Regions from separate parts of the Homo sapiens genome. Here all the other regions are linked to region 2. Evidence: fine-mapped expression QTL. A gene starts in region 2. Each other region holds a variant in brackets. All regions are shown on one strand. Distances are between the middles of the regions.

Region 1 (8,187 bases), 42 kb before region 2:
AAATTTAAATGATTCTAATTTTCCTTTTCAATTTATTGATCTGAGTAATCAAAACTAATGGATGTGATTTTTCTTCTCCGACTTAAATCTTAAAAGAATAAGCAAAGAAGCCAAATGCCTGAAAGACTGACAGAAATAAAAATTAATAAAAATTAAAATCTCAATTCTAGATTTGGAATAACAAACTATTTTATCTGGGTACACAGTTTAAAAAAAAAAAAAGGTAGTTTTCCAAGAATTTTTCTGGTTCTAAAATACACAGGCAGAGACACACTTCAAATCAAAATGTCAGGCACTCACCATAATAGCTATGGCCTTTAAACCACCCCAGTACCCCTCCCCCTGCCCACAGCTCTAGCCAGTTTAACTGCTTTTAAATGGAACATTCTAAATTGCTAAAAATAAACTATCTCTATTTCCTCCTGCTTAAGTTTTCCCATTTTCCCATGACATTTTAACCTTTATTCAGGCAGTTATGATCACAAACATGCAATACCTATATGATACCATTTCTAACCATTTTATATACAGATGCATAAACGTATGACAGTATTTCCTTTCCCTTCAAAAAACAACATGGCAAAATAACTTGCAAGATCTCTAGCCAATTAAGAACCCTGGATCTGAAGACTGACTCCGTGGGATTTCATAAAACTTGGCTCCCCATCAAAAGGCCACAATTACTCTTTCTTGACTACAAGCATCATCTCTGGATTATCCACACCTCTTCCATCTCCAAAGATAACTAAAAAAATACAGGGTAACTAAATGAGTATAAAAACACATGAACCTGGCCAGGTGCAGTGGCTCCCCCCTGTAATTCTAGCACTTTGGGAGGCAGAGGTGGATCACCTGAGGTCAGGAGTTCGAGACCAGCCTGGTCAACATGGTGAAACCCGTCTCTACAAAAAACACAAAAATTAGCCGGACATGGTGGCACATGCCTGTAATCCCAGCTATTCAGGAGGCTGAGGCAGGAGAATCGCTTGAAACTGGGAGGCAGAGGTTGCAGTGAGCCAAGACTGTACCAGTGTGCTCCAGCCTGGGCGACAGAGGGAGACTCCATCTCAAAAAAACAAACAAACAAACAAAAAAAAACAAACACAAAAAACACATGAACCTGCTCAAGGTTTATGCAGAAAGTGGAAAGGTAAATCAATGATTAATGCAAGATGTCATACAACATCCTCCTTTAATGGCCAGAAGCATACTCACGTTAGTGGCATCACCTGGCATCACACTTCTCTACTGTTCAATATTTCTATTATAATATCAATAAATCTCATTTTCTTATTCACTTAGAATAATACATTTGGTATGTGGTGAACTTCTGGCAATAACTGAATTTAGTTCCTACAGCTTATGTCTTATTTTGAGCATGATGTCAATTCAGTCAACAAAACTAACCATCTTATCAGAAATGAACTTAATATCTCTTCTTTGTAATTTAGAGAGCTTTTTCAGGTAGTATCAACCAAGTCTTGAGGGATTTTTAAAATGTTTGTTTTTTTCTTGAGACTTAAGGTCCTAAAGACAAACAGTGTGGTTTTTATTCAGTGAAAAAGCAAAGATTGCTTAAATTCTCTAAGTTCTACTTACAAAAGAAACTACAAAATATATGCATGCTTTTAAACAAATGTATACTATCAGGTTGACCTCTCTGTCCACTTCACTAACCTCTTGACATCATTTCTTTTCTTTTCTTTTTTTCTTTTTAAGTCTACATCATGCTTTGCTTGACATGGTTTTAGAAAAGGATGTTTTTCAAGTTTTGTGTGTATGAACCTTTGGAATGTTTTTAAGTGTCTTGGATCTTCATTAATATCACTAAAGAAAATACAATAACAAAACATTTTTATGAATTCAGGAAGTACTTTTAAGTAATTTTTTTTTTTCCCAGACAGGGTCTCACTCTGTCACCCAGGCTGGAGCGAGATGGCACAAACATGGCTTACTGCAGCCGCGACTTCCCCAAGCTCAAGTAATCCTCCCACCTTGGCTTAACAAAGTGCTAGGATCACAGGCATGAACCACTGATCCAGCCTTAAATAATTCTTCATTAGTCACAAATCCCTATATACATCTGAAAACACCAGTACAAATCAGTCTGCAGATAGGGGTTCATTTGGATAATCAAATCCCTTATAACAACTTCATATACCTCTCCAGCATTCGTGGCCCAAAATTAGAAACCACTGGCAGAGACTATGAAATATAAAACTGCCTAGTTACAAGCAGAATGGCTCTTTAAAGTAAATATTAGGAATCGTAAGTGAAAATTTATTGTGTGTCAGGTACCAATGTTTTCCCACTATAAAACTGTATTTCCAAATTTAAAATCAAAATTAGTCATGAAAATCATTTATATATGCACGTTTACTTCATCACAGGCAATTTTTAAGAAATGCAGCTACTCATAAAAAGGCCCCAGGACATACTGGAACACAGAATGTGCCAGCTTCCATTTCCACCACCAAAGAGAGAAGGTTGGTTTTGGTTTGAGCTCCACTACCCAACCAGAGTATCTGTAACTAAAACCTTAATACAATTTTGAACATATCACAGGTCAGAGCTGCCTAAAAGAGAGAAAAATATATATGACAGCAGAAATGTAAAAATACAAATCATAAAATAGCCACCTCACTGTGAAACTAGAAGGGCTATGGCAGTAATAAGGATGAGAAAAAGAGCAGCAAAAACACAAATTTAGAGATTTCTCTAAATTAATCAATATTTGGTAGTATCTTGTTATTATGAGAAATAAGGCTGGGTGCAGGGGCTCACACCTGTAATCCCAGCACTTTGGGAGGCCGAGGTGGGTGGATCACCTGAAGTCAGGAGTTCGAGACCAGCCTGGCCAACACGGCAAAACCCGTCTCTACTAAAAATGCAAAAATTAGCCAGGCGTGGTGGCACTGCGTGCCTGTAATCACGGCTACTCGGGAGGCTGAAGCAGGAGAATCACTTGGACCTGGGAGGCAGAGGTTGTACTGAGCTGAGATCGCACCACTGCACTCCAGCCTGGAAGAGAGACTGGGATTCTATCTCAGAAAAAAAAAAAAAAGAAAGAAACCAAGGAATTTTTGCTCTGGATAAGCCCCAAGAGACCATCTATTCTAGTCCAGTTGTCTCATTTTACAGATGAGGAAACTGGCCCAAAGAACTTAAGTGGCTTGCTCCGGGTCATTCAGCTGACTGGTAGCAAGTCCTGATCCCAGATCTTCTGGTTCCTAGCCCA[A/G]TATCTCCAGTTTTTTGTCTGGTATTTCACAATCCCTCTGCCACATCCTAATCTGGATTTGACTCATTATTTATGCTGAAAATTATTTGGACAATGTGTAACTATTGTAAACAGGTATTTCTCAAGCTTCATTTAACTATCCTGCACATCACTCAAATTAAACCTCAGCAGTTTTCCCATCTATAGAGGGGGTGGTGATGGGTATGTTTTGGGCACTATGAATTTTTCTTATAGGAACATATTGTCTCCCCTTTGATATTGAAAGTCTATGAGAAATAAATGTGTTTTTAAAAAATTAGTTTCAAAAGCAACTTTTCTTGAAATTCACTTTAATGAAAGTAAAACTTGGTTTTCAGAAACCGACGCCCTAGATTTATTTTGACTTTAACTAAATCAGATGGGTACATCACCTCTCATTCAAATAAATACACCAAGGTGCCAAATGAAGATGCATACTTACAATGCCAAATGCTGCAGTTCTTTTTACCAGCTAAGTCTTTGTGACAGGAAATCGTTTACATTGACTAAATTCTAAACTCAGGATTTAGGACAAAATAATAAAACTGATATGAATAATTGTTACATACTTGTATGGTTAACTGGTAATGACACAGAAACAGTAAATACCAATATGGAAGACCATAAATGAACCAATTAGAAATATGACAGATCCCTGGGTGGGCACAGCGGGCTTTGGGAGGCCACGGCAAGAGGATCTCTTGAGGCCAAGAGTTTGAGACAATAGAGCAACATAGATAGGCAATATAGCAAGACTGCCGTCTCTACAAGAAAATTTTTAAAAATTGCCAGGCATGGTGGTGCATCTGTGGTCCCAACTACTCAGGAGGCTGAGGCAGGAGGATCTCTCGAGCCTGGGATTTTAAGGTGGCAGCAAGCTATGATTGCACCACTACACAATCAGCCTGGGTGACAGAGTGAGACCGCATCTCTAAAAAAAAAAAGAAAAAGAAAAACTATGACATCCTAGCGTAACAGCAGCTAAAATTTATAGAGTACAAATTGGAGCCAAGTGCTTTCCACATGTTAACTCATTTAATTCTTACAACTCTACATCTACATACTATTATTATCTCCCACTTTACAAATCAGGAGACCAAGGTAGAGACAAATTAAATGACAAGTCCACAGTCAGACACTTGTAAGAGGGAGAGCCAGGATCTGCATAGAAAATGTTAATAAGGGCCGGGCGCAGTGGCTCATGCCTGTAATCCCAGCACTTTGGGAGGCCGAGGCGGGCAGATCACCAGGTCAGGAGATCGAGACTATCCTGGCTAACACAGTGAAACTCCATCTCTACTAAAAGAAATACAAAAAAAAATTAGCCGGGCGTGGTGGCGAGCGCCTGTAGTCCCAGCTACTCAAGAGGCTGAGGCAGGAGAATGGCGTGAACCCGGGAGGCGGAGCTTGCAGTGAGCCGATACAGTGCCACTGCACTCCAGCCTGGGCGACAGAGCAAGACTCCGTCTCAAAAAAAAAAAAAAAAGAAAATGTTAATAAGATATAATGATGGTGGAAATTTTACATCAAATGTCCAGAATAGGCAAATCCAGAGATACATACATAAAGTAGATTAGTGATTAAAGTAGATTAGTGATTGCCTGCAGCTGGAGAGAGAAGGTAGCGAGAGGAATGAGGAGTGACTGCTAATGGGCACAGAATTTCATTCTGAGGTGATAAAAATGTTCTAAAAATAGATTGTGGTGATGGTTATACAACTCTGTGAACATACTAAAAACTAATGAATTGCACACTTTAGATGAGTGAACTGTATAGTACGTGAATTATGTCTCAATAAAGCTGTTAAAAAATATGGTGGTGACATATATTCAAAACGGAACCATACTCAGCAATAAAAAGTGGAAAAGACAGTTAGTTGCCAGTATTAGGGGAAGCAATCTGAGTTCTCTATTTTTGCTACTTTGTCTAAAATTATTTCCAAATAAAAATTAGAGTTTTGTTAATTTTTTATTTTTTTGAGACACGGTTTTATTCTGTCAGCCTGGCTGGAGTGCAGTGGCGAGATCTCAGCTCACTGCAGCCTCCACCTCCAAGGTTCAAGCAATTCTTCTGTCTCGGCCTCCCGAGTAGCTGGGATTATAGGCACGCACCATCACGCCCAGCTAATTTTTGTATTTTTAGTTGAGATGCGGTTTCACCATGTAGGCCAAGCTGGTCTCAAATTTCTGGCCTCAAGTGATCCACCTGCCCTGGTCTCCCAAAGTGGTGGGATTACAGATGTGAGCCACTGCACCCAGCTGGAAGTTGTTTTTTTAAATGGAACCATCTACATAGCATGAAGCAGAGGGCACCAGACTTAGAGGCAGGAGGTGCTGCCCGGCCTCCTGACACCCCTAACTTCCCTTCTCGAAGTCCTGAGGGTGACAAGATTCATCCTGCTCAACACCTCACTTGCCATGAGGACCCCACAGAAGGTGGCATAATGAAAACACTCCCACTTGCCAGGATGCAGTGGCTCACGCCTGTAATCCCAGAACTTTAGGAGGCCGAGGCAGGCAAATCATGAGGTCAGGAGTTCGACACCAGCCTGGTGAAACCCCATCTCTATTAAAAATACAAAAATTAGCCAGGCATGGTGGTGTGTGCCTCTAATCCCAGCTACTCGGGAGACTGAGGCAGGAGAATTGCTTGAACCTGGGAAGCAGAGGTTGCAGTGAGCTGAGATCATGCCACTGCACTCAAGTCTGGGTGACAGAGCAAGACTCCATCTCAAAAAAATAAAAAAGAAAAAGAAAACACTCCCACCACAATACCCAAATGCCATCTATAGGAAGGATAAATATTACCATGTTGAAATTTTATAAAATTTTATAAAAGCAAATCTACCAGTAGAAAACTATCAGAAAAAGGTGTCTGAAAGCTCATGAAATATAGTAATAGTCAATAACTAGGCCGGGTGCAATGGCTTACACTTGTAATCCCAGCACTTTGCGAGGCCAAGGCAGGAAAATCACTTGTGCCCAGGAGTTTGAGACCAGCCTGGGCAACATAGCAAGAAACCTCATCTCAGAAACAAAAATACAAAGACAGAGGACTAGCACATTAATATTATGCACTGCACAACCTCTGAAGTTGCACATGGGAACCTTGAAAGATAACCAGTAAAGCAGTGCAATATACAGGAATGGTCCAATGAGCAATACAGACCATAAATAAAAAATTACATACTATAAGAGCCAAACAGGGAAAGTTAGCCATTTTTTTTTTAACTACTGTATGTACAGAGGGATTTTGGGAAAGGCATCATCAGAGTGAGCTAGACTAGACAAAGCTTCTTGGGAAGGCCTCCTCTTGAGCTGAGCCCTAAGGAGACAGAAGACGAATTTCCATCTTAGGAGGAATGAATAGAGCAAAGGCACTGAGGCCATTGAAGAACGTGGGGTGTGGAGTGACAGGCAGGAACAGGCCTCTATGTAGAGGTTAGAAACAAGCACTATGACACTGCCAAAGCAATATCCAGTCTGCTCAAAAAGCATTTGAACCACCTGGACTGCATATCCCCCAGGTAAAAGATAGCAAATCAACAACTCCAACCAATTTCTCAGGTGATTCCTATGCCCACTGAAGTCTGAAAACAACTGTTCCAGAGCAAAGGAGGTAACATAAGGCAAGCAGTAAGGGCAAAAAACACCACATTTATATCACATGTTAACACTGCAAGGAAGACAGTTGTTTTAGATGTTCTGTTTCAATACTCCCTACTATTATCCTTCCCCAAAAGCACTTTAATTTACTATATAGTTTAATGAATTTCACATCTGAAAATCATTAATAACCTGTCTTCTCTTAGGTATACTGAAACTACCAGAATTGCATGGGGGCCTTGAAAGCCCTTATTTAAGAGGTTCCGATGGCAAGATGTGAGGAAAACCATTTGGAAAAAATCCCAATCAGTATGCCTCCCTGCCCCAAAATATGCTTTACTAAGAAGGGCAGAACCCTGGTTTTAAAAGCAAAGCAAACAAAACAAAAACTCTTTCAAGTTCTGATTAAGCATGCAGTCCCAAAATCACACGCCAGTGTCCTCTGAGTGCAAAATTTGAATACATCACTTCATTATTCAGAAATGAAATAGATTAAAAGAGCTAGGGAATATGAGAAGTTTTGAATCACTCTCTAAACTACTTCCAAATTTTTCTTCCCAATCAAGAATCAGGCACAGGTATAGATTATTTCCACCGTAACACCTGAGTAGCCACTTGCCCAAGACCTGTACGTATTGTATAGATTATAAATTTCAAAGTTCCAAATACCTCTCACATTTTCTTGGCAAGCAAAACTTTTCTTGGCAATCAAAAAAAAAGCAAAAACAAAAACAAAAAAAACCCACCCAAGAAGTCAATTGGCCAGGCACGGTGGCTCACACCTGTAATCCCAGCACTTTGGGAGGCCAAGGCAGGAGGATCACTTCAGGTCAGGAGTTCAAGACCAGCCTGGCAAACATGGCAAAACCCCATCTCTACTAAAAATACAAATATTAGCCAGGCGTGGTGGCTCACGCCTATAGTCCCAGCTACTTGGGAGGCTGAGGCAGGAAAATGGCTTGAACCTAGGAGGCGGAGGTTGCAGTGAGCTGAGATCTCACCACTGTACTCCAGCCTCGGCGACAGAGTGAGACTCCACCTCAAAAAAAGAGGAAAAAGAAGTCAATCAAGTACTGCTTGAGAAACTATTTACTCATCGTATTAGATGTTTGGGGGAATGAGATACAAAAAACAAGGCTTACAGTCTAACTGGGGAGAGAAAACCTATACCCATGAAAAGCAATGGCCTGTAGAATGCAAGTGCCTTACACGTCTTAGTCACCCTTTACCCCCAGGGCATAGCATAAAATATGTGTTCAGTAAACACTGTTAAAAAAAAAATGCTGTCTTGGTCATCTTTGTCACTCCAGCATCTAGCCAAGTTCC
Region 2 (8,187 bases):
TTTTTTCCCCCGAGACAGAGTCTTGCTCTGTCACCCAGGCTAGAATGCAATGGCACGATCTGGGCTCACTTCAACCTCTGCCTCCCGGTTCAAGCAATTCTCCTGCCTCGGCTTCCCGAGTAGCTGGGATTACAGGTGCCACCACCGCGCCTAATTTTTGTATTTTTAGAAGAGACAGGGTTTCACCATGTTGGCCAGGCTGGTCTCAAACTCCTGACCTCGTGATCTGCCTGCCTCGGGCTCCCAAAGTGCTGGGATTACAGGCGTGAGCCACCACGCCCGGCCTCAACCTGCACTTTCACTCTGTCCCCACTGAACTCTAGCCAGAGTGACAGCATGAGATTGTCTCAAAAGAAAATTTAAAAAACCAAAAAACTTGTTTTTAACAAATTTCAGGCCAGGCACGGTGGCTCACACCTGTAATCCCAGCACTTTGGGAGGTCAAGGTGGGCAGATCACTTGGGGTCAGGAGTTCAAGACCAGCCTGACCAACATGGTGAAACCCTGTCTCTATTAAAAATACAAAAATTAGCTGGGCATGGTGGCGGGCACCTGTGCTCCCAGCTACTCGGGAAGCTGAGGCAGGAAAATCACTTGAACCCAGGAGGTGGAGGTTGCTGTGAACCAGCCTGAGCAACAGAGGGAGACTCTATCTCAAAAGATAAAAATTAAAATTAAAAAATTAACAAATTTCAAAGAAAAGATCATACTAAACAAGTATGATCATCATACTTGTACATAGAAAGGTATATCTTTTCTACTTGTACTATGTGAAAACAAGAGTGCATGTAAACAACTATAAATGGACCATTTTTTTCTTGATTTTTAAAAACGAATTCTTCCAAATACCATTTTCTATATGTAAATTAATGAATGGTACCATCTCCTCTACTAGGGTCTACTTCCTAAGACCATAATCTGTAGTTGTCATTGTATATAATGTATCCCTAAACGTCAACAGAAGAAAAAATGAAAAACACAAACCCAGACATCTTAAAGTTTCTCTAGTACTTAGTTTACCTACTCATCAATGTGAGATATTCTCCTGATAATGTTTCTTTTAACTTGCCCAAAGACAGACTAAATTGAGCCTTTAAAAAGGAGAGTGGGTATATTTGGTCACACATTAGTAACTTCAATGTATGTGAAGTATCCCATCCCTTCAATTTGCAACACATATAAAACTCTACAAAAAGGAAATTATATATAGATGTAGAAAGATCAATTGAAAAAGAATGCATCACCTGGTCATGAGCCTTACCTTTTAGCAGCGGCAGAGGTGTTAACTCAATAGGCTTGCCTTGAGACCTAAACTGTGAGGAACTTTGCGACCTCTTCTGTCTGGCTTTTCTGACGGACTTCCGAGAAAATCCGTCTACTTTATCCACTGATGGAGGAGTAGTTGGTGCTGAGGACATATCCCTACTGAAGAGAAAGAAGTATCATAAACCCATACATTCCCAAGGTGGAAGCATACATGTGAGTTATACAAATTCTAAAATTCCCATATACAATATTCATGAAAATGGGAATATGTGCTAAAGAAAATAAAATCAGTTAAGAAAAGTCTTATCTTGGCCAGGTGCAATGGCTCACGCCTGTAATCCCAGCACTTTGGGAGGCTGAGATGGGTGGATCACTTGAGGTCAGGAGTTCAAGACCAACCTGGACAACATGGTGAAATTCAGTCTCTACAAAATTACAAAAATTAGCCGGGCATGATGGCAGGTGCTTGTAATCTCAGCTACCCGGGAGGCTGAGGTGAAAGAATCGCTTGAACCTGGGAGGTGGAGGTTGCAGTGGGCCAGGATCCCGCCATTGCACTCCATCCAGCCTGAGTGACAGAGTGAGATTCCGTCCTTTAAAAAAAAAAAAAAAAAGGGCTGGGCCCGGTGGCTCACACCTGTAATCCCAGCACTTTGGGAGGCCGAGGTGGGTGGATCACTTGAGGTCAGGAGTTCGAGACTAGCCTGGCCAACATGGTGAAACCCTGTGTCTACTAAAAATACAAAAATTAGCCAGGCGCAGTGGCATGCACCTGTAATCTCAGCTACTCAAGAGGCTGAGAAGGGAGAACCGCTTGAACCTGGGAGGCGGAGGTTGCGGTGAGCCAAGATGGCACCACTGCACTCCAGCCTGGGCAACAGAGCAAGAGTCCATCTCAAAAAAAAAAAAAAAAAAAGCCAGGCACAGTGGCACACACCCGTAATCCCAAGGCGGGCAGATAACTTCAGGTTGGGAGTTCGAGACCAGCCTGACCAACATGGAGAAACCCCATCTCTAATAAAAAAAAAAAAATACAAAAATTAGCCAGGCATGGTGGCGCATGCCTGTAATCCCAGCTACTCGGGAGGCTGAGGCAGGAGAATCACTTGAACCCGGGAGGCGGAGTTGTGGTGAGCCAAGATCATGCCATTGCACTCCAGCCTGGGCAGCAAGAGGAAAACTCCTTCTCAAAAAAAAAAAAAAGAAACAAACAAAGAAAAGAAAAGTCATATGTTAACAGGAAAACATGAAAATTTAGTGAAAATAATTTAAGTATCACGGAAACAATATGAGAACTCTAATGTATTGTGCCACTCCATTATAAGCATTAAAGATACTCATCTAGGCTTAAAGAAATCTATGCTGCCTGCCCATTTTCTAACTGCAAAGCTCTTCACATCTTCAAGTAATTTTTGGAGCTATTCTGTAACTGGAAAACTTCCATTGATACATTTTCCCAAGATACTTAATATTATGAATGGGTTCTGGAGTTGAAAAACCCTTAGTGTACTTCAAGAATCTATACCAATGTATCACAGCAAGGTGAAATTTACTACTACTGAAACTATCTAGGCATAACTTTTAATGGGATGTGCTATGTTAGCTATGATAAACTATACCACACTGCAAATGAGGACAGGCTAGATTACTTTAAACAAAACACATAAAAGGCATAATTAAAATATTTCAAATAAGTCTTCTTTTTGAATGAAGCCACCTTACGTTATTAACGCTTAATAAAAACTATGAGAAAATCAAGCACCAAAGTTGAACTGAAAACATAAATTCACAGCCTACTGAAACAACCAAGTTGAGTTCCCTTGAGGTTTAGACCTTGAAGTTCATCATCAAATACCAATTTTCATTCCATCAAACTTACGGAACTGAATAGCACTTTTGAATTGTTTAACCCTCTCGAGTTATTAAAATGAAGGCTATTTCCTGAAAGTAACAAGCGTTAAGCTTAATTTCATTCACCAAATTAAACAGATGCCATCATTTCCATGGCACTGAGGCTTCATGCAAGACTAATGGCAGACTCGGATAGAAAGAATGCATATGGGGGAAATGCTGAAATGCAATTACTCACCTGTCATTCCAATAGACAAGACAAGTGGTTTTTAACTTCTAAATAAAACAGTAAGGGAATTTCTTCCTGAACACGTGAGAATAAAAAGTTACCTGGATTACGTGGATTTTGACAATGTAAAAATAACAAAAACATTTTAAAACACATGCACACATATGATGTTGACGTTTGGAATTTGGAAGTCTTCTTTGGTTTTCTTTAAAAAAAAAAAAGTTTTTAAAAATCTACCTAATTTAGCCTTAATATAATGTGATGGATTCAAAATAGAATCACAAACTATGAATGACTATAGATGTTAAGATCACTTTAAAATATCAAAATGACTGCATCAGCCAAAAGCTCCACATCTTATTTGTACGTTGTAAATTTAGGGGCCGATTTTCCATTCGGGTATGTGAATTATTTAGACTTCACTCTAACTCTAACACTACAACATTTCAGTAAATCCTCTTCCTCCATCACTCTTTTCGTCTCTTCTTTATTCCTTATCTCTCATCTCTACAGACGATATATAGGTAGCTTTTAAAAAAATCATTTACCCCTTATGCCCGAGGCCCAGAATAAACGTCAAGGATCGCAACCCTGAAGCACTGCAAAACTGAACGTAAGGTAACAGCGGGTCCGTGCAAAGCCCAGGGAAACAGGTTTCGCCCTGGGCCAGGGCTCCCGAAGCTTTATCATCCTCTAATCAGCAGGCATGGGGCATTTCCATGGCTCAGGATAATCCAAAGGGGGTAAGGGGAAGTAGGGAAAGACAGGGAAGGGGTTTGTCTGTGGGGATGCTTACATACTCCCTTTGCTCCTAACCCACACCCCAAGCCCTGGAGACGATAAGCTGCTAGAGAATCCTCCTCACACCAAACCCCTCTTTATTCCCCGCCCCCGCCAGTGGATAAAGGGGGGCAAGAAAACGCCTCCAATCCCAGAAGGTGGAGAAAAAGGGGGGAGGGGGCAGAGTGAATGAGAGGTATCATCAGAAGCATTTGTAGGTAAATCAGACAAGTGGGACGGGCGCTCCCGCTCCCGCACCCCACCCCACCGCACCCCTCGCCTGCCCGGCCAGGCCTTCCCAAGGCCGGTGCCCCATAGGTTCCCCAGGAGGACCGGGAGGAAGAAGGGAAGCGGGCGAGCCGCGGTGCTGGAGGGACTAAGTTACCTTGAAGCTTCTGGGGAAGAATCCAAAGATGATCTGTGGCTTGGAGGGGCGGGAGACGGGCGAGGTGGCCGCAGCGGGGGCGGGCGGCGGGACCGGGACGTGCAGGGGGAGGTCCGGGCAGCTGCGGGGAGCCTGGGGCGACGGCTGTCCGGTACGGGGTCCCTCCGGTTCCGCGGCGGCGGAGCCTCTAGGCCTCACGGCCGGACCCGAACCTCAGCGTTCCGGTGGCGGCGGCGGCCTCACGATCCTCCCCCGCGGGCCCGTCCCATCAAATCGGCACCGACCCCGTTGCGGCTCCGCCGGTGGCTCCTCGCTCACATTCCTGGCGGGCGGCGCCTCAGCTCGTTGCCCCGGACCCGGCGGCGGCGGCGACGACGTGGGGAGGGGGGGAAGGGAGGGAGGAAGACTGGATCTGCAGCGGCAGCAAGAGAAGGGGACAGAATAAGGAGGAGGAGCCGCAGGAGCTGGAGCCGCCGCTGCCAGAGCCACCTTTCGCTACCCGCGGTGGGTCCCAGTCAATGCCCCTTTCTCTCTCCTATTGTCAATATCACCGGGCGGCTGAGTCCATGGCACACGCGCAACCGAACCTTCTGGCCAGCAGCGCCCGCCTCCGGCGCCCGCCCACTGGAGACTTCAAACGGGAAGCGAGGCCTCATTGGCCAGTATCCGCCTTCACTCCCCTGACAGCATGTTCGGCTGAGACCTGATCAGGGATTGGCGGCAGGAGGGCGGAGAAACGGGAGGGTGGGAAGAGAGAAGGTCGAGGATTGGGCCGAAGCTTGAGGAACCCGGATGCAGCCGCGATCTCGGGCGGTGCAGCCGCCGCTTCCGCCCGGCAGTGGGGCAAGCTGAAGTGAGAAGCCGCTGGGCCTGAGAGGAGCTCTTTAATTCCGGGAGGTGTGCGACTAGCGGATCAGCGGGCTGGCTTTCCGTGCTGTGCGGAGCCTTTGGGCGGCGGTCGTCTTGGACCGGAGGATTCCAAGGGCTCGGGTCGTCTAAGGGTCGGGGAGCCCCGGAGACTTGATCCCGCCCTGCAGCTAGTGTGGCCCCTCAGGGTTTGGGGAGTCCCACTCTGGACGGGACCCTGTGATGCGTAGGCAGGAATAAGATCCCCCGCCCGTGCCGGTGTGCCACTGCTTGTGTAAATGGGCCCCTTGAAACCCCCAGCAGTCGCTCTCCGCTGAACCTTCTTCGAATTTTCTCTCACCTCATCTCCTTTTCCTTAAACGTCTGTTTTGAATATCAGACCCCTGTAGCGTTGAAGCCAGCGCTCGTTTAATTAATGCAGGTGGGAACGCTGTCGCCACAGTTTGCAGTCTATTCATTCAGAATAACCCGCCAGTCAGCCGACTGCTCAGAGCTCGGAAAGACCCAGCTCCAAACTAGGAGTTTCGAGATTTTAATTGGCAAGTTGGACCCGAAAGAGTTAATGGAGAAGACTACTTAAATCTATCTAGAACAAGTGATGAGATATTTGGAGATGTGTTTGCATGCTTGGTGAATGCAGACGGCCAAATGGTACATTTCCAGATAATATTCTTGGATTAATGTATTTGAATGCACCCTACGTACATTTTTTGAGAGGAAAAAAGGAAGAAAGAAATTATTAATGCTAACTACAAACGTCAGAGTACCAGTTGTTCAAAACTTAGAAATTGGGGGGGGGGACAAAAAAATTAACATTCTTATTTTCTCAACTCAGAGATAACCACTTACAGTATTTGCATACTTCCTTTTAGTATTTTTTCTCTTTATGTTAATAATGTGTGTCGATCTGTAGCCTAGTTTTTTCCCTCAGCATTATATCATCTTTTCGATACGGTTAGGGAATAGAGCTATATATAAATAAAACTATATGTACCATATGTACAAGTGACAACGAAAAATGCATTTGCATTTCTCCTGTTTGTGTTGTTAAACACTAGAGTTTTGAAATTTTCTTTGCACACTCCCAGAAATGGCTCTTGAGTGGAAAAATAATTTTGTGCCATGAAAGATAAAAATATTCCTGCTTTGAACTGAAATGGAAAACGAAAAGATGACTCTTAGATGGAAGCAGTCTCCCCCTACTGACTCCAGATGATTGGCCACTGTATGGCTAGTGCCCACTTTTGCCGTGATAAAGTTCATCACCACTAAGTATGAACTATAGAATACCAGCAGTCTAGTTCCTACCCTCAAGAACCTTAAATTTTCCATATCTCAATATCCTGTACAGTCTTCATGAAAGTTCAGTGTCCCAGCCAAGGACCTGTTTTCTTCAATCTTTGATTGAGGGTAAATTCAGAATTAAAACCAAGGAAGATTTTGAAGCCAATTCAATTTCCCTTGGCAACAGTTGAACTGTTAAAAGCATAGTGCACGTTTGAAATTCTCACAGCTGTTGCTTAGAACATGTCATAGAGTGGGGATTTTGCTTGCAAATTATGGATCTCTATAAAGACAATTCATTTCAAAGTCATTTCACTTTCTATAAAATGGCTGAGCAACTGAAATGAGCAGGTTTTTTAAAATGGAAACATCCTTGCCTATGTGAGAAATTGTTCTCTGGACCAGTAATTTCTCCCATGTATCCCAGGGATTTCGGTACTCCAAGAATAGTGCAAGACAATCTATTTCGGATGCAGTAAAAGAAAGTATTAGGAAATATATTTACATTTAATTTTAATCTAAAAGGCATTACGGTCAACTACTATTTTATATAGAGTGAATGGCTCTGCCCTCAGTCCATGGAATGGTGCCTTGGCCTAGAACAGCATAGGAGATGTCCTCAGGGAAAAGTGGGAGTTACCCATTCCTAGGGGTTGGCAGTGGTGGGCCCACCCAATCAGCCCCTGACAACATATGACTTATTGCGGTTTCTTATTGCAGTTTCTGGATTCAACTAAGTGGACTTACTGATTATATTATCTAAGTTTAATTAAACTAACCCTCATAAAACAGACAAATGACTCTATGAGTCCTTTGCAAATAAACCACGGGAGAACAAGAAGAAAATGTTAGAACTGACTCTTCAGTATCAAATCTTTTTTTTCTTTTTTTTTTTTTTTTTTTGGTATTTTTAGTAGAGACGGGGTTTCACCATGTTGGCCAGGCTGTTCTCAAACTCCTGACCTTGTGATCCACCCGCCTCGGTCTCCCAAAGTGCTGGGATTACAGGCATGAGCCACCACACCCAGCCCAGTATCAAATCTTTGACAGCCACTTTTCAAAAGTAAAATACCAATCTAATAAATTCAATCAAATTTTGACTAGAAAAAAAATCAAGGCTACTTGAAATGTAAATTTACATCCACTGTTGTTGTTGTTGTTGTTGTTGTTGTTGTTGTTGTTGTTGTTGTTGTTGTTTGAGATGGAGTCTCGCTTTGTCGCCCAGGCTGGAGTACAGTGGCGCAAACGACTCACTGCAACCTTCACCTCCCGGGTTCAAGCAATCCTTCTGCCTCAGCCTCCCAAGTAGCTGGGATTACAGGCATGTACACCTGGCTAATTTTTGTATTTTAAGTAGAGACGGGGTTTCACCATGTTGGCCAGGCTGGTCTCGAACTCCTGACCTCAAATGATCCACCCCACTCGACCCCCCAAAGTGCTGGGATTACAGGCGTGAGCCACTGCACCCAGCCTACATCCACTGTTATTAAGAATTGAACTTCATTCTAAGTGTATATGTTGATTG
Region 3 (8,170 bases), 160 kb before region 2:
TTTTTAACATCAACCAAGTAGGAAGTACATGATGCAGGAATATAAGACTATATTGTAAGTTATATAAATTCACATTTACTAAAAATAATTCACTACACTGTCTCTGGTTTTTTTCCATGTTGCAGCGAACCAATAAAAAGCAGACCCAGGCTGGGCGCAGTGGCTCACGCCTGTAATCCTAGCACTTTGGGAGGCCGAGGCGGGTGGATCATCAGTGAGACCCCGTCTCTACTAAAAATACAAAAATTAGCCGGGCATGGTGGCGTATGCCTAGAGTCCCAGCTACTTGGGAGGCTGAGTCAGGAGAATCGCTTGAACCCGGGGGGCGGAGATTGTGGTGGACGGAGATTGCAGCGAGCCGAGATCACACCACTGCACTCCAGTCTGGGGGACAGAGCAAGACTCCGTCTCCAAAAAAAAATAAAAAAAAAAAAATGCTGATCCAGATTAACATTCATAAATCCAGGAATTCAGATAATTCCTGAAAATGGGGGCTCCACCATCTCAGGCATGGGGATGTAATCCATGCACTACCCCACTTAGCAAGGATTAAAACTTCAGCCACAGTACAATTTCTACGCAGGGAAATCCACATGGGTTGAGTGAAATTTGTATGTAATTCCAATGCCTCATTTTTTTTAAAACATTATAACCAATGTTTTTTAAAAGTTATATTAATATCTAGAGCAATAGAGATTAATCTTCATCCCCTCCAACTCCCAAAAAACTCAAGAAAAACCTAAGTAATTTTATATTCTTATTCCACTAGAGACTTGAGGAAATGTTGAATTATAATGCCATAATAGTCTGGTATTAACCAGAAATGTTTAAGACCATATGGGAGCACAAACCAGTGGAACTCTTTACAATAAATGTTTATGGCTTAGTAAAGCCATATGGTAATTAATATCATGATCTAATAGGTAATATTTTCATAACTTAGGCCTTGTTTACCATAATTAGTTTCAGCTATCTCAAATACAAATCTGCACAATATAAATTTCAGTAAGCAGACTAGTTTTCATAAAATTACCTATTTGTTAATTTTGACCCTGAAAAAATTGCACTTATAGGACAATAAGGGCAAGATTAGATAATCCTCCAATCTTCTTCTGGCTTTTTTGTTTTTGCTTTTGTTCTTTTCTTAGAGTCAGGGTCTCATTCTGTTGCTCAGGCTAAAGTGCAGTGGCACAATCATAGCTCACTGTAGCCTCAATCACCTGGGCTCAAGCAATCCTCTTGCCTCAGCCTCCTGAGTGGCTGGGACTACAGGTGTGCACCACCACTCCTGGTGCATTCCAGATTCTAAACATAATCAAGCTGTTTGACAAATTATCACTTTTTGTTTCTCAGTACAGTCTGGGAATAATTATGAGGTCTAAATCAATGTTAGCAAAAAACACAATTTGGGTATATATAAATCAATTGTATAGATCCTGCTGACTTTCGATGAATATGACCTTTTTATTTGGAGAGATAAGGGGATGGTAAGCAAGGGCTTGGAATTTTACTCAACTAAAAAACATTTCAATGTATTTCAGGTTCACATTGCCCTAATTTGCAGTTTTAACCCATTTATGCCAGAGGTTGTAAAACTTTCTTGTGAAAAATCAGACCTTGACGATGACCTTGAGCAGTGGGATAGAAATAACTCCCACAAGCTTAGCGTTCCAATAATGGAACACTAGGCATAAATTGGTTAATTAAGTGTTGACATCATTAAAACATTCATCATCTTGTTACTAAAGTGTTTCATGTTTTTGATCAAATATGGCACTCAATGCAATTTATCCTGTTGGGCTTTTCCTCCAACTGAGCATTATGCTCAGTTATCACACGGCTTTCATACTGACAACTCTATCTTTAAAAATCCTAAATATTGCTGACACAGTTATTGTCACCCCCAATCTTTCCCACTTTTCTCTCTCCCTGTAGGTGGAAATTTTAACGCTTAACCACACTGTCATGCAGGGGATATTGTCAAATTCTCTTCTAATTTCAATTTTACATAGCACTAATGTTGGCATATGTATCTAACAGTGTTAAGTACTTATTCCACCCACCATTTTCAGATTTGTAATACTTCAAAATTTGATCTGAACTGAAACCATTAACTTCTTGCCATCCTGAAGTAAAATTGTCCATTCAGTTATTCTCTGACAGTACCAACTAAATTTCTTCATTCCCTTGTCCTATTCCCACACCTATGGAGAAACCAATGTTTCCATCTGTCAGTACACCCTTCTATTGCTCATTTGACAAATTATTATTCTTGCTTTTAAAAACCCATTTTCTTTTTTTTTTTTTTCGAGACGGAGTCTCGCTCTGTCGCCCAGGCTGGAGTGCAGTGGTGTAATCTCGGCTCACTGCAAGCTCTGCCTCCTGGGTTCACGCCATTCTCCTGCCTCACCCTCCCGAGTAGCTGGGACTACAGGCACCCGCCACCACGCCCTGCTAATTTTTTGTAGTTTTAGTAGAGACGGGGTTTCACCATGTTAGCCAGGATGGTCTCGATCTCCTAACCTCGTGATCCGCCCGCCTCGGCCTCCCAAAGAGCTGGGATTCCTCTTGTTGCCCAGGCTGGAGTACAATGATGCAATCTCTGCTCATGGCAACCTCCCCTTCCCGGGTTCAAGTGATTCTCCTGCCTCAGCCTCCTGAGTAGCTGGGATTACAGGCATGTGCCTCCACGCCCGGCTAATTTTGTATTTTTTAGTAGAGATGGAGTTTCTCCATGTTGGTCAGGCTGGTCGCAAATTCCCAACCTCAGGTGATCCGCCTGCCTTGGCCTCCCAAAGTGCTGCGATTACAGGCGTGAGCCACTACGCCTGGCCCCCATTTTCTCATTAAGAAAGTACACTCATTATAAATAACTGTAATATGCCAGAATATCATAATCAACCTCAACCAGGAATAGATAAAATAATAGTTTTATCTATTCCTGGTCCCCTTAGTTAATTCTCATCTTTTTCAAGGGTTTAGTCTATTTAGTTTAGATAATAACCAGAAAATAGTTTTATTATTGAAGTTCACTAAATACAAACCAAATAATTTGAGTGGAAATAAGTTGTTCTTCAATATTCTCTCTCTTTTTTTTTTTTTTTTTTTTTTTTTTGAGACAGAGTCTCACTCCAATGTCCAAGCTGGAGTACAGTGGCATGATCTTAGCTCACTGCAACCTCCACCTCCCGGGTTCAACTGACCCTCCCAACTCAGTCTCCCTAGTAGCTGGGACCACAAGCGCATGCCACCGTGCCTGGCTAATTTTCATACTTTTAGTAGAGACAGGGTTTCACCATTCGGCCAGGATGGTCTCGAACTCCTGACCTCAGATGACCCGCCCGCCTCAGCCTCCCAAAGTGATGGGATTACAGGCGTGAGCTACCGTGCCCAGCCAAGTTCTTCAATATTCTTGATGAGATTCTACGGATTTAATCCTGGTTCAACTAGGATAATAATAATGTGCTTTCAGAGAAGATGTTATGCACAAAGCACCTTTAACGATGCAACACAGTATTAAAATGTACCCTTGGCCGTTTTTTTAAGTAACATCCTTTAAAGATTTTAAGTTTGGGGCAAGGAGGGTTATCATAAATTTATAATTTGCAACAATCGCTAATATACTGAATTAAAAGTTGTTTAGGGCTGGGCGCGGTGGCTTACGCCTGTAATCCCAGCACTTTGGGAGGCCGAGGCAGGTGGATCATGAGGTCAGGAGATCGAGACCATCCTGACTAGCACAGTGAAACCCTGTCTCTAGTAAAAATACAAAAAATTAGCCAGGCGTGGTGGCGGGTGCTTGTAGTCCCAGCTACTTAGGAGGCTGAGGCAGGAGAATGGCATGAACCTGGGAGGCGGAGCTTGCAGTGAGCTGAGATCGCGCCACTGCACTCCAGCCTGGGCAACAGAGCAAGACTCCATCTCAAAAAACAAAAAAAAAAAAGTTGTTTAAACTGTGAGTATGGAATAACATATCCCATAATTGATAATAATCCCAATATTCTGGGTAAAAAATCCCAGCCTCTTCTGAGATTCTCAGCTAAATACTCACCACATTCCATAATTAAGTTGGTTTTCATAAACCACATCCCTGGTAACTTAAAACAAAAAAATCATTGCAATGGTCCCTCTGCCATCAAACCTTTCCCCTCATTGCTCTTTTTATCAATAAAATGCAAGTTGACAGACTAAAAATGAGACAAAGCAAAGCACCAAGGGAACCAGAGAGGTTCAGCAAGACCCTGGGTATGAACACTCGCACACATCTCTGGGTCCTCTAAGGTCCATAGCTTTATGATATACAAAGCTGACATCTGCTTATGGATGATCAAAGCCAAACCACAGGCGCAACTACTAAGAGCTCTCTAGACTTCTATAATCTCCCCAAGTACATCTTTTGGAAAGTAGAATGCATTGGACAAGATTTTTACTAAGCCATAAGCATTTATTGCAAAGAGTTCCACTGGTTTGTTCTCCCATATGGTCTCAAACATTTCTGGTTAATACCAGACTATTAACCTTCATGTTCTTTTCACTGATCTTTAAATTGTAATAAATTTGTTGGGTTCTAGTAAGTCCTGGGCCCAAGAGCTAGATAAATGGTGCCTCATTCCCCCTGCTATTGGAGTGAAGTACAAGATCTGCCCAATTATACTTCAAGTAAGTTCAGAGTGGGAGTGAATCCCAGAGAGCAAACTACCTGATGGTCCCTTTAAGTGAACCTAAAATACCAGTTAAATGCTGGGCTCTTAACCCTGAGGCAGAAGTGAAATATTATTAAAGAAAGGAAAGAAAGCGGGCTTTATCAAAATGAGTGTCAGGAAGCTTTGTTACTCAGTGGCACAG[TAATA/T]AATAAATAAAGACACAGTTAATAAGTGTGCAAAAATGAATATATAAATACAGTCATGTGCCAAATAACAACATTTCGGTCAACACAGACCACATATACCACGGTGGTCCCATAAAATTTTAACAGGGTTGAAAAAGGCCTACTGCCTAGTGATTTGTGTTACAATTGGCTACGGTATTCACCACAGGTTTGTAGCCTGGGAAGAACAGGCAATACTACATAGTTCAGGTGTGTCATAGTAGGCTACACCATCTAGGTTTGTGTAATTACTGTATACTTATGATGTTCACACAATACAATTGCCTAAGGATGCATTTCTCAGAACATATACTGGTTGTTAAGTAATGCATGACTGTAAACAAAATTGTGCTGCTTAAGATTTGGGGTACAATTAGGCAACTTCAGCAAAGAGCAAGGAAAAAACTCAATAGCTTTATGCACAGCTGACAAAAAAGCTTTAAAAAGTTACCGCTGACGATCTGACTTGTATGTGGCTGTCAGCTCGTCAAACATGGTGCTGTTCATTTCCATAAATGCCTTCAACACATTGTACACCAACGCCACAATAGCCCTGGAAAGCACAGAAAAAAAGGAGTGTGTTAGTTAGTCTTATAAAATGGGATACTGAATGAAGAAAGCAAAAGCACAACTTTTGTCTGAATGATTTCTCGTACTGCACACTGTCTGTATCCTTTTTTAGTTGGAACAACTGAAAATGACCTACAGTTCATTTCCACATCAAGAGATTTCAAGGCAAGATAATTTTCTGAGGGGTGGTAGAACTAGAAAAAAAATCTAACTTTGCCCTTCTAATTTCTTTTTTTTTTTTTTTGCAACGGAGTTTCGCTCTTGTTGCCCAGGCTGGAGTGCAATGGCACCATCTTGGCTCACCGCAACCTCCGCCTCTTGGGTTCAAGCAATTCTCCTGCCTCAGTCTCCTGGGTAGCTGGGATTACAGAAGCGAGCCACCACACCTGGCTAATTTTGTATTTTTAGTAGAGACGAGGTTTCTCCATGTTGGTCAGGCTGGTCTCGAACTCCCAACCTCAGGTGATCTGCCTGCCTCGGCCTCCCAAAGTGCTGGGATTATAGGCGTGAGCCACCACACCTGGCCTGCCCTTCTAATTATTGGCACCCAGAATAGAGCTGCCTGTGGGCATTTGATAATTTCATTTAATAAAAAGGCAAGTATAATAGTAAAGCAATTTCACCCTAAAATAAGGATCTGTGATAGCACTAACCTTAGACATCTGAATTTGCATAGAATTCTATTTTCTAAATAACACATAATTCATCAAAATCAGAAGCTACTTCCCTAGAAACAAATGTTATATATATATGTGTATATATATAAATTATTCTTATCCAAAGAAATGAAATCAAGCCCTCATGTAGGTTGGGTGGTTCAATATGAATTATCTGTCTAGCTCTGATCTGCACCAGTCCTGCTGACCCAAAATATATGCTGATAACTGGCAAGCTGGGATGGTTGCTATTAGCTATGGGACACTATACAGCTAAACAGCCAAAATGGTAGCCCATACTTAACAAGAATTAGCTCTTGGGCAATGTGAGGACAAGGTTATGATGGGCTTGATAGCTTCAGACTAGAGTCTAAATAGCTTTTCCTTTTGCAAAAATATCCGTTGCTTCCGTTTTGCAACAAACATGCTCCTAATACCACTGAAAAATGCATTGGTAAAAATTAGCCATATATTAAATAAACCATGAGTCTGATGTTTCCAAAACATTTACAAGAAAGTACACTTGCTGTGTAGCTTCTGCCTTGTGCCATTAAAAGGAAAATTTAAGTTCTTTTCTGTTAAGGTTCCAGAATGACCTTCCTCCCAAGGGCAGTGATGGGAAAGCACCAAATGTAGTATACTGAGTAGTTACAGACACTTGCTAGAACCGTTCTCTAGGTCCTCAAGAGACTATCTGTATAAAGGGACTTAACTGTTTATCAGCTCCTTATTTTTACAAGTTCTATTAATATAATTAGGCAAATTTGAAAAATTAGAAATGTGATATTTTATAATTACATGCAAAATTTTTAAAGATAAACATATTATGAATATACTGAATTGTATCTCCCAATTTTTAAATACCACATTAAATTTTCCTTCTATTCCACAGAGAAAAATGTAAAGGCATTCAAATTCAGAATGCTTTAACTTTCATAGGGCTGGATGTTAAACTTCCCTTGATGATTTTAAACTCCTTCCTTTCCAAGAGATACATATAGCGACTGAGTTGGCTGTTAAATAGATCACACTAAAATGAAAACCTAGTCAGACCACTTCCCCACTTAACAACCCTTCAGTACTTCCTCATCATCTACTTGGTGAAGGCTCACACGAGTCCCACAGTCTTTTCTAGCCACATCCTCTAGCACCCTCCCCAAAAGACCTTGTGCCTCAGCCCTCCCAAACTCACAGGTCTCAGAAACTGACAGCTGCTTTTTACATCTTTGTGCCTTTTAACATGATGGATGGACCCACTGTCTGAAAGGGCTCTCCCCATGCCATCCACCTGCCAAATTCCTTTCAGATTCAGTCTAAGCATGGCCATGCTGTCAGTATCTACACACCTCTCCTCTCAGCTGCAGTGCCTCCCCAAAAGATCTGCTACCTTCATAGACAGATCAAGAAGCCTGTCTAGTAAACAGATACTTTAACCGGTATTTTGTTAAAGTATCTGTTTATTTTCTCCAGTCAGTGAATCCCCAGAAGGTAAGGATTTTATCTTTTCACATACGTCTTCAGCAACAAGGACAGCATCTGGCACATAATAAGGCTGAAGGGAAAGAAAGAGAGGAAGGGAGGAAGAGAACGGAGGAAAGAAACTGAAAACCTACGGATTCCAATGTTCTTTTGAAATCCTATAAAGGCTGGAAAACATGATGGGAAGGATGACGTTAGAGTTTTCTTCTATCAAACTCATGATGTATTCATTATTCCAATAATAGAGTGCTCTTTCTGCCACCTTTGGGAAAAGAAAAATAAAATGTTAAGAGAGAGAAAAAGACAAAGATAAAACAAAATTATAAATCTTTCCAAACAAAAGTATTTCAAAAGGCTATTTGTAAATCATTCAATTAGAGGTAAAATTAAATATTAATCACATTTTAATATATATATATTTTTTGAGATGGGAGTCTCGCTAGTGGCGCGATCTCGGCTCTCTGCAACCTCCGCCTCTCGGGTTCAAGCGATTCTCCTGCCTCAGCCTCCCGAGTAACTGGGATTACAGGCACATGCCACTATGCCTAGCTAATGTTTGTATTTTTAGTAGAGGCGGGGTTTCACCACATTGGCCAGG

Direction of the effects. Positions count from the first base shown, and alleles are read on the strand shown. Sizes are in standard deviations (SD) of each study's normalised expression. Not every link is listed here.
As copies of A replace G in region 1, the expression in esophagus mucosa of the gene that starts at base 5,110 in region 2 goes down (moderate effect, 0.42 SD a copy in GTEx).

The links. PIP is the estimated chance that this variant, and not a neighbour inherited with it, causes the effect.
Region 1: its variant is fine-mapped to the expression of PPP2R5E in esophagus mucosa (GTEx, PIP above 0.99). The same link has a PIP of 0.9 or more in unexposed skin.
Region 3: its variant is fine-mapped to the expression of PPP2R5E in blood mononuclear cells (TOPMed, PIP 0.96). The same link has a PIP of 0.9 or more in lung.

The regions. Positions count from the first base shown.
Region 1 is chr14:63,496,679-63,504,865 of GRCh38, forward strand. The region is part of intron 2 of PPP2R5E (protein phosphatase 2 regulatory subunit B'epsilon); the gene reads right to left. Among named protein-coding and RNA genes, the nearest start is that of PPP2R5E, 43 kb to the right of the region's middle. The variant A/G (reference allele first, on the strand shown) is at 3,239.
Region 2 is chr14:63,538,268-63,546,454 of GRCh38, forward strand. PPP2R5E (protein phosphatase 2 regulatory subunit B'epsilon) reads right to left here and starts at 5,110. Exons shown (of 14, transcript NM_006246.5): 1 at 4,512-5,110; 2 at 1,262-1,425. The coding sequence starts at 1,418. It overlaps LOC112268140 (loricrin-like), which reads left to right and starts at 4,517. Exons shown (of 1, transcript NR_158218.1): 1 at 4,517-6,397. RefSeq lists silencers at 4,606-4,745, 4,786-4,925 and enhancers at 5,162-6,153, 5,216-5,425, 6,513-6,592.
Region 3 is chr14:63,376,738-63,384,907 of GRCh38, forward strand. PPP2R5E (protein phosphatase 2 regulatory subunit B'epsilon) reads right to left here. Exons shown (of 14, transcript NM_006246.5): 12 at 7,707-7,834; 13 at 5,319-5,420. Among named protein-coding and RNA genes, the nearest start is that of GPHB5, 62 kb to the left of the region's middle. The variant TAATA/T (reference allele first, on the strand shown) is at 4,846.